Linked DNA regions of Homo sapiens: region 1 is linked to region 2. A link means that fine-mapping ties the variant in region 2 to the expression of a gene that starts in the linked region. Tissue or cell type: lung. Region 2 holds a variant in brackets; the other region holds the start of a gene. All regions are shown on one strand. Distances are from middle to middle.

What was found. PIP is the estimated chance that this variant, and not a neighbour inherited with it, causes the effect.
Region 1: QSOX2 starts here. The variant in region 2 is fine-mapped to the expression of QSOX2 in lung (TOPMed, PIP above 0.99).

Annotation. Positions count from the first base shown.
Region 1 is chr9:136,244,811-136,247,487 of GRCh38, reverse strand. QSOX2 (quiescin sulfhydryl oxidase 2) reads left to right here and starts at 1,676. Exons shown (of 12, transcript NM_181701.4): 1 at 1,676-2,012. The coding sequence starts at 1,685. RefSeq lists silencers at 1,439-1,708, 1,739-2,148.
Region 2 is chr9:136,216,060-136,218,736 of GRCh38, reverse strand. QSOX2 (quiescin sulfhydryl oxidase 2) reads left to right here. Exons shown (of 12, transcript NM_181701.4): 8 at 1-58; 9 at 2,015-2,137. Among named protein-coding and RNA genes, the nearest start is that of LHX3, 12 kb to the right of the region's middle. RefSeq lists an enhancer at 2,227-2,677. The variant T/C (reference allele first, on the strand shown) is at 1,336.

The sequences.
Region 1 (2,677 bases), 29 kb before region 2:
ACCAGCACTGCCTCTCACCCCTCCCCGGAGTCCCTCCAGCTTGTGGAAGGAGGCGGCGGCCCCTCCCAGGTCCCCTGCTTCCCCTCCTGCCCCTCCTACTCTGCAACTAGAAGGGCAGAGCTGCATCCTTGCACCGATCCTTCCGTGGCCACCCCCCCATTCAGCATCAAAGTCTGAGTCTGCGGCCCAGGTTGTGAGGCCCCCTGGGTCTCGCTCGGGCTCTCAGCTTTTCTTCCCTCCCACGCTTCCCCCAGCTTGCTCCGCTCCCACCAGGTCCGGCTCCTTGCTGTTCCTCCAGCGTGCTCAGCACCCTTCTGCCCCAGGGCCTTTGCATGTGTGCCTCCTCCCTCACCTCCTTCTCCATTCGGGTCACCTTCTCAAAGACCTCCCCACCCTCCTCTGTACGGCAGCCCTGCTGGCACCTGCTTCCGTGTCCGGCTTCATTGCTTTTCATAGCACGCGGTGGCTGCTTTACGCGTTGGTTTGTTTGGGGTCTGCCCAAATGCAGGCCAGGGACACTGGGGGCTCGGTTTTGTTCTTGATTTGTCTCCAGGGCTTGGCACAGAGCAGAAGCCAGGAAACGTGGGTGATGGAAGGAAACATGAACAGGGAGACGCAGGACGTGAGGAAAAGGGAGCAGACGCCTTGGCCAGGGGCCCTCTGGGGAGAATCCTCTCATCTGGGGTTAACCATTGTTAGCAGCAAAACCTTTTAAACAAAATCTTACACAGAACCCCACAATACAGTTATCTATTTATTTTGAGACAAGGTCTCGCTCTGTCATCCAGGCTGGAGTGCAGTGGCAGAGTCACGGCTCACTGCAGCCTCAAGCTCCCAGGCTCAAGCCATCCTCCACCTTAGCCCCTCAAGTAGCTGGGACTACAGGTGTGCACCACCATGCCCGGCTTTTTTCTTTTTTTTAAGAGATGGGCTCTCGCTATGTTGCCCAGGCTCGCCCACTCCCTTGTTTTGTTTTGGTCACACAGTTCAGAGAAAATCTTGACATGTGTAAAAATTAGGAATAGGAACAAAAAAAAAAATCAGGTATCCTGTTCAATGAAGCAAAAAAGTCATATGATTTCATTTCCAAACCGTGAAGCTGCATTCGACTGGAACATCCTAAAAGGTAGCACACAACACATCTGACTTTGAGTGGATGTTTTGCTGCATTTTCTAAGCGTTCCAATATCATATTAAAAAGTCGAGGCTGGCTTGCAGACCCTCTGAAGCCCCAGGTGGGGTTGCCAAGTAAAAGAACCCCGGAATAGTTTTTTACGTCTAAGAATGTCTTGTTAAATTTGTATTTCAGGCATGGCACAGACCTAGGCTGAAAAACCGACTCACTGTTTGTCTGAAATTCACGTTGAACCTGGCGTCGTGCACTTCCATTTGCTAAATGTGGCCACCTGGCCCTGTTCAGGGAAGGGGTTTGGGGAACGCGCGGCGGGGTGGGGCGGGGCCTGGGCGGAGCCTGCCGCGCCTGGGCGGGGAGATGGCGTCATCAGACTCTTGGGGGCGGGGCTGCCACGCATGGGCGGGGGCGGGGGCGGGGAGAGAGGGCGGGGTCAGACGTGAGGGGGCGGGGCGGAACAGAACTGGGCGCGCGGGGGCGGGGCCGGGCGCGCCGGCGCACGTGACGGTGGTTGCCAGGGTGAAAGTTCAGCGCGCCGGCGGCACTTCCAACATGGCGGCGGCCGGGGCGGCGGTGGCGCGCAGCCCGGGAATCGGAGCGGGACCTGCGCTGAGAGCCCGGCGCTCGCCCCCGCCGCGGGCCGCACGGCTGCCGCGGCTGCTAGTGCTGCTAGCGGCGGCGGCGGTGGGGCCGGGCGCGGGCGGTGCGGCGCGGCTGTACCGCGCGGGCGAGGACGCCGTGTGGGTGCTGGACAGCGGCAGCGTGCGCGGGGCCACCGCCAACAGCTCGGCCGCGTGGCTCGTGCAGTTCTACTCGTCGTGGTGTGGCCACTGCATCGGCTACGCGCCCACTTGGCGGGCCCTGGCTGGGGATGTGCGAGGTGAGGCGCGCCCCCGCGCGGGGACCCCCCGACCCCCGGGACCGCGGCCTTCCGGGACCCCTTGCGACCGCCCCAGAAGGCGGGTCCCGGGGCCCCTCCCCCGTATTTCTTTCCTTACCGCAGAGCCAGTCCCTGCCCCACAGAGGCACCCGACTCGGACCAACCCTGGCCTTTCCAGGGGCGGGAGACTAAGCCAGCTGCTCCCCATGTCTCTCCCAGTTAATCCCCGTTAGATCCTGACGAGTTGGGCTGTCTGAAGTCAAAATGAAACCATTCTCCCGCAGCCCTCACCGCACGCTTGGGGATAGGGAAGCCCTCCCGTATCCCAGCTCTCAAAATACCTATGTTTTGAGCCCCAAGAACTTCATTGACCTTCCAGGCCTCCTACCCTACCTGTTTCCTAGCGTCCACACACCCCATCCCCAGTGCCCAGAATTCCTGTTCTCTGAGGATCCCTCATTCCTATTCCACACTCGTAGCCACCCCATTCCCTTTGAACCTTCATCATTAACTTTCTGGTTCGGATCGCTGGCCATATAGTGGGTGCTCAAAGTGAACCCACAACTTAGAAGTCCAAATACTCTGGAGACTTCTCTATAATACCCCAAAACAACCTATAAAGCAATTTTTTTAACTCTACAAAGAATTTCATTGGTGGGCTCCTT
Region 2 (2,677 bases):
GTCCCTGGCCGGAGCAGAGCTGAAGACGCTCAAGGACTTTGTGACTGTCTTGGCCAAGGTTTGGGACGGTGCTGGTCTGGGCTGCATGTGGGAATTTGGCTCTGCACAGAGTGGGCCCTGGGGGGCGTCGGACACTGCGGGGGCTCCGCCAGCTCCGCTGAGGTGCTCTCCACCTTGCTTTGTCGCCCAGGCCCACGCCCCAACTCATTCCACCCATTTCCCGAGTGCCTCCTGCGTCCACTGCTGTTCCCAGCACTGGGGCTGGGGCGGTGGGTGTAGAGAGGGGCGGGGGTGTGAGCCGAGCACCTGCTGGAAAAGCCCAGCTCTGGCTGCCTGGAGAGTAGATGGAGGAGGGAGCGGAGGCCCACACACACCTCAGCTGGCTCTCAGAGGAGCGCTGCACGGGGGCTGGGGGGAGAGAGAGAGGGAGAGGCAAGGGCTGTGCAGATCCAGGTGGGGTGTGCATCTGCCCCACCAGCCAGGTTCAGGGAGGGGTCCTGGGAGCTTCACGCTCAGCACCATCACCAGCACAGATGTGGTGTCTGAGACCACTGAGGGGGTCGCCAGGAGCGGGCAGAGATGCCACCCAACAGAGCTCAGGCCTGGCCGTGCCCAGGGTCAGGCTGAAGAGGACCAGCCAGGGAGGTGGCCAGGTGTAACTCCATGAGCTCGGTTGCTTGTTACTGTCTAAATGACAAGAAGGCTTAGGCTTAAAATATTTATCTTGCCAAAAATAAGATGCATGATAGAATAATTTATAGTGAGCACTTTGGATAGAGTTTACTTACAAAGTGATTTGTGAAAAGTACAGGAAATCTTGAAGGACTGGAGGTGCCTCAGATGAATGCATGAACATTGCCCAGGCAGCTTTTTCCCCCACGGTGCCATCCAGAGTTCAGAAATCTCTAGCTGGCCTCATTTCCTTTAAGAAAGTGTCCTGCTAATCTGTCCATCATATTAGTGGAGGACAGTGTGGCTCTTAGTGGTGGTGGCCGCCGGCCAGCTAATTCGCTGGAGTCGCACAGCTGTCGCTAGGCAGACCTGCTCTCCTCTCCCGGCTTCTCCGTCTTCCCCTTAGTCTAGTTAGGCTTGGAGCTTTTACACTTGTGCTCTGGGCAACTCCTGAGGCCAGGGTATTAATAAGTTATTCTTAATATTTTTCTGAAGTTTACTTGGATGTCTAAAATAAATTTGATTCTGGTAAATTAATCATGGTACTTTTTAACCTGCACGGGAGAAAATATATTGGACTGAGCTGAAGATGCCGGCGTTTCTGGTCTGGCATCGCCACCTGTGAGCTTCAGCTCGGGTTTGAGGAACTCTTTTGGTGGCTGG[T/C]GTTTCTGGTCTGGCATTGCCACCCGTGAGATTTCAGCTCGGGTTTTCGGAGCTCTTTCGGCAGCCTATGTTTTGCACAGTTTGTGGTGCAGCAGCTGATCAGAGTTTCTCCTAAAAAGACAGAGCCCTGGGATCTTCTCAGCCAGACGCCTCCCCAAGCTGTGTTGATGTCGGCCAGCCTCACGGCCCACACAAGCCCATAGGCAGTTAGCCCCGGCTGCCGGCGCATGTGCACTGCCGCGCGCCCTTCATACAGTCAGTGACGGCAGAGGGGAAGCCCAGCGGGCGGGCAGGCGGGGTCAGCACAGCTCCTCGTGAGGAAGGCAGAATAAATCAGCAAGCCCCCGCCAGCTCCATGATGAGTCACACACCGTGACCTTGCCTGTCACCTGGCCGGAGCGAGGCCGTGGGCGCAGGTGGGTGAGCTGCAGGCACGGGCTGGAGAAAGGCATGGCCGTGGGCACAGGCTGTCCTGGGGAGAGGCGCAGGCTAGATGCCCACCCCATGGCCCCTTGGGTTTCCTGCCTCCCATCAGAGAAACCCGAGTTATGAGAGGCCCCATCCTAGGTTCAGCCCCTCTGCGGATGGAGTGCTTCTCTTTGGAGGTGCGGTGCCCCCCGCGGTGGGGGCGGGCCCGGGTTTGGGTCTGTAGCTCTCAGGTGGCTCCTTCCTCATGCAGCTGTTCCCTGGACGGCCGCCAGTCAAGAAGCTGTTGGAGATGCTGCAGGAGTGGCTGGCCAGCCTTCCCCTGGACAGGATCCCCTACAACGCCGTGCTTGACCTGGTCAACAACAAGATGCGGGTGAGCCCCAGAACCCTCGCCAGCCACGCTGCACCCTCCTTCCCTCGCCTTCCTTCCCTTGCCCTTAGCTGGTGCATCTCCCTGCTCGGGGCCCGGGCTCCGCTGTGAGGAAGGGGAGCAGTGACTTACTGTCTCCACGACAGCATCATGGCCATGGCCTCCTGTCTGCCTTGGCAGCGTCATGCTGGGACTTCAGTTTAAGGACAGCTCACCAAAAGTGCACTGTGACCACCTGTCCTTTGGACAAAATGGGGTTTTCTCAAGCAACGTAGTAGTTGGGCTTTTTAAATTTTTAGTAAGCCAATCTGACGAAAACTGATGTATTCAGTAAGTGTGGCAGCCTTTCCAGAGCTTTCCCCAAGACCAGGTGCCAGCAGGTGCCAGTCTTTGCTCAGGGGACCAGCACCCCAAGAGGTCCTGGCACTCCGTCCTGCCATTCCCTCCTTAGTCCAGATCAGCAGCTTCTCTGTGGCCCCCAGAGTGTTTACTCGCGGGCAGTAAACCCAGCGTGCTGCTTGTCCGACGCCCGCGTGGTCAGTG